Regions from separate parts of the Homo sapiens genome. Here regions 1 and 2 are each linked to region 3. Evidence: fine-mapped expression QTL. Tissue or cell type: whole blood. Region 3 holds a variant in brackets; each other region holds the start of a gene. All regions are shown on one strand. Distances are from middle to middle.

Region 1 (2,500 bases), 33 kb after region 3:
TCCCCTGCTTTTCTCCTCAACTCTCCACCCCCACTCCGGGTGATAACGGCGGAGGTGGGGGGTTGGGGGAACTGGCCTTGTGTTTTGGAACAGCTGCAGCCGGCGCTGGGCCCGCCTGGAATGCGGGAACAGGCTGCACACCAGGACTTTTATGGAAACTTGCTGCTGGAGACGGCGGCGGCGGCGGCGGCAGCGGCAGCCAGAGGACTCCCAGCGGCTGGAGCAGAAGTGTTAGCGGCCAGAGCTCCCAGACCCCTACCCACAGCCAGGCGGGACGCGCACAGTCCCTCCACGCGGAAAGAAGTACCTTCGCCGGTCACCGGCTCCTGCAGGGTGAGAAGAGTTGGGGGAACGTGGGCTGGGGGGAGTGGAGACGGAGGTGTCGGGTCCCCTGGTGGGGGCGGGGGCGGGAACGGCGGCTGCAGAGAGGCGCTCGGGGTCTGCGGCTTCTGGCCGTGCTCCGCTGCAGCTCCGGAGGGCGCCGGGCGCCATACAGCTGTGGTCCGCGCTGGCCCCGGCCCGGGCGAACCCTGCCTTGGAGCCGCATCCTGCGGGCTCGGCGGGGTGCCTACCAGGGGCTGCCCCAGGGTCTGAAAGTGTCGGCCGGCCTTGGGCTTCTGGTTGCAATGTCTTTGCCCTGCTCCCCTGCGCCTTGTCGGCTGAGTTTCGGGTGCGTTCCCTACTGTAGGGAGGGAGCCCTCTGTGAGCGGAGTGGGTGCCGATCCCTCGGCTGAACCCTTGGGGTCCTTAGGGAAGTTCAGTGCCGTCCCCCACCACTTGCCCCAGCCGCGGTCTCCGTCTCTGCCAGCAGTGCCAGTTAAGAAATCCTTTCTGATCGGTCTCTGTGGAAGATGGGGAGAAATATGATTTAACAGCCTATTACTCCCCCCCCACACCCCCGCATATCCCCCCACTCCTGTCTCCAACCCTTTTTTTTTTTTTTTTCGTGATTCTGCCCGAGGTGGGATGCTGGGGGTTGAGCAACTAGGGCTGGAAGTTTACGAAGTTTACGTAGTTTAAGTGAGTGAAGAATGTAGTCACCTCTTGAGAACTCCCTTTGCCTATATGCTTTTGAAAACGCCAAACCATTCCAGCTGTTTGTAAATTGTGAAACGTTCTACAAATGCATTAGCATTGGCATTTATAAAGAAAATGACGAAGTTGAGAGGTTATAGTTGGTTACTGCAGTGACTTAGAGATGCTCATTTTATAGTTATTAAAGCACAACGTGAACCAAGTTGGCAGAGAGATAACAAGGTAAAAATAGCATAAGGATATGTCCTAACAAAATGTCCTTGGTGAAGACACAGGTAGAGAAAAGAAGCCATAATAAAGAAATTAGTTCCCTGACCAAAACAACGGGAATATCATTCATCGTTAAATTTTGTTAATGAATTCATGTAGCAGCGGCCCATTGGCCTTCGAGTCACAACATAACTATGTCTTAGGTAATGTGATTAAATAAACTTAAGTATTTATACTTAAGTTCATATCTTAGTCACACGTTATTTATATCTTAGTCACACGTTATTGAGTGGACCACATAATTTCCCCCGCTAAACATTATCCTTTACAGGTTAAACTGCTGCAGTTAGAAAACTTTGTCTCAAATTCTTTTGAGTTTGGGGTATTGTTAAGAAAAAATGCATAATTAATCAAATGAGAGAAAGGTTTTTTGGGGGGAGGTATAATTTGTATAAGTAAACTTTGATTAACCAATGTAGCTGTTTAAGTTTCTTCTTCCTTACAATTAACACCGTATTTTTGCAGATATTTTATATTTTGACTAATGCTTCTGAGGAACAATTTAAAGAAAAATGCATGCAATTATGTAGTTTATCTGCAATTCCCTTAAAGAATTCTAAGCTAAAACCACAACAAAATTATTTTAAATCCAGTTTTCCTCATCATAGTTACAATGTAATCCAGTTTTAATAAAAGATTCATATTTTAAAATCCATTTTCAATTGAAATGTAATGAATAGCAATTGTTCCTGCTCACCTTAAAATGGAATTTGTGCTATTTTTGAAAATTTGACATGTAAGGCTGATCATTGTCAAAATGTATGTCATCTTGAGATGACTATATTTAGCATCAACAAAGGAATGCATTATCTAGGTTTTTGAACAGTCTTTTTCCCCTGAAATTTCACTTGAAGTATTTAGGTTAGGGTTTCATTTTTGAGCAGAATAAAAACTAAATATGCATATTTGGAAGACATTAATTGGGGATTCAGATTGCTTAGAATCTGAGCGGCCTATAATGACATACTTCATTTATTAAAAAAAATACCTGTTATCTTTGAAATACCCTAAAAGACAAAAAAAAGGGGGATTATTTAAATATGAGAGTTGTGCACACCTAAAAGAAAGAAAATAATGCAGTGAATGTGGAAAAGTATGTAACAGACAGGTAAAAGTCTAAACGTTTTTATAGAAGAGAGGACTGTTATTTTATAGTTATGTAGGCCACACACACACAGAACATCTTGGTAGTTTA
Region 2 (2,500 bases), 77 kb before region 3:
AAGTCTCAAGAGCTCCATTTACCCTATAAGTGCAAAATATTTTCACATAAAACCCAGTCTGTGGATCGTTAGTTATTATTAATCTAATAATATCATAAATTGGTACTACTATTCTATTTTCCATTTGGTTAAATGGGAATTTTGAAAACAGAATTATTTTGGCTTTTCACCACAAATATGCTCAGCAACTGGAATTCTTAAATCTGCAGTTTTTTTGTTTTGTTTTGTTTTGTTTTGTTTTTTGTTTTGAGACAGAGTCTCACTCTAGTCACCCAGGTTGGGGTGCAGTAGCACTATCTGGGCTCACACAACCTCCGCCTCCCGGGTTCAAGCGATTTTCCTGCCTCAGCCTCCCGAGTAGCTGGGATTACAGGCAGGTGCCTGGCTAATTTTTGTACTTTTAGTAGAGATGGGGTTTCGCCATGTTGGCCAGGCTGGTCTTGAACTCCTGACCTCAAGTGATCTGCCCGCCTTGGCCCGCCAAAGTGCTGGGATTACAGGCTTCAGCCACCGTGCCCCGCCTAAATCTGCAGTTCTGATGGAATGTTTTGACTGAAGACTGAACGTAGAAACAGTACCTTGGGTTTTGTTGTTGTTATTTTTTCCTAACCCGGCCCCCTATTAGTTTACTATGTATTAGAACCTGAGAGAGGTGACTACTCTGCCAATAAATTGCCACATTCAATATTCTTCGGTTGCCTAATTCAGTGGGAAACACAGAAAAAAAGGTAAAGAGGACATGAAATCAATAATAAATGCATCATCTATACCGGATTGGAATGCCTCTTAACACTCATTCATCTGAGGGCTGAGGGCCTGTGGTAGAAGTTCTTAATCTTGTTTTCAGGGTTTTGAAATTGTGTAACTTTTTTTTCTTTAATGTAATGAGCATGTGTATACACATTTTTTTTTTTCCAGGGGAAACCCTCCATAATTTTTACCAGATTGACAACCGTTCTAGATCCCCCGACAGGTTACGAACTACAATACTAGTTTTTTTTTTTTTTTTTTACCGGTTTGTAAAAGGATGCAATTCTTCGAATATAGTTTTTGCATCCACTTGACGAGGAAGGAGCCTCTACCCTAAACAAAAATGGCGGGAGCTGCTTCACACGTAGTCCCTCACGCAGAAAGCCTGGAAGGCCCCCTCCACTTTCTCTCCACCTTCGCACTCCTGACCCCGGAAGGACTCCGCCTTCTCCATGTCAGACTGCTGCTCAGCGCCAGGCATCAGCTGGGAAGCTGGCGTGGGCAGGCCAGCTGTACCTGGCCTGGAGCTCCAGGTACAGGGCCAGGGGCGGGGTGGGGTGGAGAGGCGGGCGGGAGGAAGCGGAGAGTTGAGCGGCCACGCAGTTGGGGCAGAGGCCTCGGGGCAGGGGTGGCGCGGACTCCATCGCTGGCGTTAGCTCTCGGAGTGCCAGGTGGAGCGGCGGAAAGCCAGAGGGTCTACGGCCGTGCCACCCTGAACACCCCCGACCTCGTCTCATCTCAGAAGCTAAGCAGGGTCGGGCCTGGTTAGTACTTGCATAGGAAAGCAGGAGGGTCCCCACGCCAGAGGGAGGCCTGCAAAGGAAGCGCGGAATTGGGATGGGCTCGCCACTGCTCTGAGCCAGAGGAAGGGTCTGGACGGCCGAGCTGGAGGGACCCCCTTTTCTGGTGTTCTTGGCAAAGAAAAAGGAAGACAGCAGAGGAGAGCTCCGCGAGGGGCTGCTGTGGGGTCGGGGGAGAGCGCGCTGGAGGTAGGGCAGCTGGTGAGGTCTCAGGTTCGGCTTGGATGCGGGTGGTTTTGAGCAGGGAGTGGCTTTTGGATGTGAAAGATTACTCTGCTTTGCAGGTGCTTTAAGAGAATAATTTAGCACGGGAGTATTGTGGTGTCAGGTCCTTCTGTAAAGTTGTTAAATTATCTATTTTCCAGAGGGAAGACTCAGCTTGTTTTTGCACAGGACTTTGAAACCTTTATTATTGTTGTTTTATTGTTGTTGTTATTGCAGCTAAACATGTTTGCTCTGTTCAAAGTGTCAGAGTTAGGTTATATAGATTTGTGCTTCACGTCAATTTTCTTTTTGATACTTCAGACTTTCCTTCCTGTTGGATTATAAAGTCAAAGTTGCAGGATAGAATTTTAAGATGTCTAAGAAACTGTTTATGACACTTATTTTTAATTCCCCAGTAGTTGGAATGTAGAGGAGCAAGTAATATCACACAGGACAATATTTTTGGTTATGTTTTATAGATTCCGTCTATAAATTTGAATAATCATGAAACCCCCTTCATGTTTATTTTTATTATGCTTCTGAAAGCAAATGAAATGACTAGTTTTTTGTTTTTTTTTCTTTAGTTTTTCAATGAATAATGATTAGGTTTGGAATCAACTTCCTCAGTAATATTAAATGAAAAAGAATGAGGTAGTTAGAATGCAAAAATAGAGGTTTGTCATAATATTTTTTCTTTTTTCTTTTTTTTTTTTTTTTGAGGCGGAGTCTGGCTCTGTCGCCCAGGC
Region 3 (2,721 bases):
TTTTCAAGGTAAACGATCATATTGACAGCAAACAGTGACAGTTTGACTTCCTCTTTACCGACGTGGATGCCCTTTATTTCTTTCTCCTGTCTGATTGCTCTGGCTAGGTCTTCCAGTACTATGTTGAAGAGGAGTGGTGAGAGTGGGCATCCTTGTCTTGTTCCCATTCTCAGAGGGAATGCTTTCAACTTTTCCCCATTCAGTATTATGTTGGCTGTGGGTTTGTCTTAGATGGCTTTCATTACACTAAGGTATGTCCCTTGTATGCCGATTTTTCTGAGAGTTCTAATCATAAAGGGATGCTGGATTTTGTCAAATGCTTTTTCTGCATCTATTGAGGTGATCGTGTGATTTTTGTTTTTAATTCTGTTTATGTGGTGTGTCACATTCATTGACTCACATATGTTAAACTGTCCCTGCATCCCTGGTATGAAACCCAGTTGATTGTGGTGGATTATCTTTTTGATACGTTGTTGGATTCAATTAGCTAGTGTTTTGTTAAGGATTTTAGCATCTATGTTCATCAAGGATATCGGTCTGTAGTTTTGTTTTTTGGTTACGTCCTTTCCTGGTTTTGGTATTAGGGTGATGCTGAATTAGGGAGGGTTCCTTCTATCTTGTGGAATAGTGTCAAAAGGATTAGTACCAATTCTTCTTTGAATGTCTGATAGAATTCTCCTGTGAATCCATCTGGTCCTGCACTTTTTTTTAATCGGTAATTTTTTAATTACCATTTCAGTCTTGCTGCTTGTTATTGGTCTGATCAAGGTATCTAATTCTTCCTGATTTAAGATAGGAAGGTTGTATTTTTCCAGGAATTTATCCATATCTTCTAGGTTTTCTAGTTTATGTGCGTAAAGGTGTTCATAGTAACCTTGAATGATCTTTTGTATTTCAGTGGTATCAGTTGTAATATTTCCTGTTTCTTTTCTTAGTGAGGTTATTGGGATTTTCTCTCATCTTTTCTTGGTTAATCTTGCTAAAGGTCTATCAATTTTATTTATCTTTTCAAAGAGCCAGCTTTTTGTTTCATTCCTCTTTTGTATTTTTTTTTGTTTCAATTTCATTTAGTTCTGCTCTGATCTTGGTTATTTCCTTTCTTCTTCTGGGTTTGGGTTTGGTTTATTCTTGTTTGTCTAGTTGCTTGAGGTATGACGTTAGATTGTCTGTTTGTGCTCTTTCAGACTTTTTGATGTAGGCGTTTAGGGCTATGAACTTTCCTCTTAGTACCACCTTAGCTGTATCCCAGAGGTTTTGATAGGTTGTGTCATTTTTGTCATTCAGTTCG[C/A]AGAATTTTTAAATTTCCATCGTGCTTTTGTTTTTGACCCAGTGCGCATTCAGGAGCAGGTTATTTGATTTCCATGTATTTGCATGGTTTTGAAGGTCCTTTTTGGAGTTGATTTCCAGTTTTATTCCACTGTGGTCTAAGAGAGTGCTTGACATAATTTCAGTTTTTAGTATTGAAATGCGAGGTACTATTACATTCACTCTGCTCTTTGTTGCCTGTGTACTTTGGTTTTTTTTTTTTTGTTTTTGCTTTGTAACTTGTATTGTATTGTATTGTATTTATGTATTTATTTTGTGACGGAGTTTCACTCTTGTTGCCCAGGCTGGTCTTGAACTCCTGACCTCAGGTGATCCGCCTGCCTCAGCCTCCCAAAGTGCTGGAAGGTGCTGGGATTGCGGGCATGAGCCACTGCACCTGGCCCCCCCTAATTTTTTTAATTAGAGGATGTGGTGGTGCGTACCTGTAGCCCCAGCTACTCGGGAGGCTGAGGCAGGAGGATCACTTGAGCCCAGGAGTTTGAGGCCGCAGAGTTATGATTGTGCCACTGCACTACAGCTTGGGTGACAGAGCGAGATCCTGTTTCTTCCAAACAAAACACTCTAGAAGTTTTCTAGAAGTTTTCTGGGTTGTTGTTTTTTTTTTTTTTTTTGCTTAGCTGGCTACTCTACAGTGTTTGCAATTGTTTTTTAATGAACTGTCAGAAGATTGGAATTTCATATGTAGAGTTGTTATGCTAGCCAAAAGCACGACTGTCTTTCAGTTATACAAAAGTTAATCAAAGCTACATATAAGGAAATATGTCTTAGAATAGCAACACTGAGCTTATTTTGTTGTTTTTGTACTAAGTTTTGCTTCATTATAATCATAGGTTATAATACTTGTAAGTAATCTATGGATGATAAAATTCTCCTCCTCTTTTTAAAAAATGCTTCTTCAGTTGTTCTTTTTGGTGAACTATAAGATACAGTATTGCTGGCCAGACGCGGTGGCTGACGCCTGAATGCCAGTACTTTGGGAGGCTGAGGCAGGCGGATCACTTGAGGCCAGTTCGAGACCAGCCTGGCCAACATGGCAAAACCCCATCTTTACTAAAAATACAAAAATTAGCTGGGTGTGGTGGTGCATGCCTGTAATCCCAACTACTCTGGAGGCTGAGGCAGGAGAATCGCTTTAACCTGGGCGATGGAGGCTGCATTGAGCCAAGATCCTGCCACTGTACTCCAGCCTGGGTGACAGTGAGACCCTGTCTCAAAAAAAAAAAAAGATACAGTATTGGTTTTCTGTATGTTCTGTGGATTTAAATAATTGGATTCAGAATGAACTAAGCTTGTTAAAAGTTTTACTCTTTTTAACAACTCTATTGAAGTAAAATCAATTCAGATTTTATTAGCTATAAAATCCTCTTGAATGGTTTTTATGGTTTAATCAAATTT

Evidence for each region. PIP is the estimated chance that this variant, and not a neighbour inherited with it, causes the effect.
Region 1: it holds the start of NEXN-AS1, and the variant in region 3 is fine-mapped to the expression of NEXN-AS1 in whole blood (TOPMed, PIP 0.94).
Region 2: it holds the start of MIGA1, and the variant in region 3 is fine-mapped to the expression of MIGA1 in whole blood (TOPMed, PIP 0.99).

What each region holds. Positions count from the first base shown.
Region 1 is chr1:77,888,427-77,890,926 of GRCh38, forward strand. It overlaps NEXN-AS1 (NEXN antisense RNA 1), which reads right to left and starts at 1,113. Exons shown (of 3, transcript NR_103535.1): 1 at 1,042-1,113; 2 at 1-842. It overlaps NEXN (nexilin F-actin binding protein), which reads left to right and starts at 198. Exons shown (of 13, transcript NM_144573.4): 1 at 198-333. RefSeq lists an enhancer at 143-202 and a silencer at 443-582.
Region 2 is chr1:77,778,454-77,780,953 of GRCh38, forward strand. It overlaps MIGA1 (mitoguardin 1), which reads left to right and starts at 1,196. Exons shown (of 16, transcript NM_001416120.1): 1 at 1,196-1,283. It also overlaps the pseudogene RNA5SP21. RefSeq lists an enhancer at 1,083-1,172.
Region 3 is chr1:77,855,807-77,858,527 of GRCh38, forward strand. The region is part of intron 8 of MIGA1 (mitoguardin 1); the gene reads left to right. Among named protein-coding and RNA genes, the nearest start is that of NEXN, 31 kb to the right of the region's middle. The variant C/A (reference allele first, on the strand shown) is at 1,289.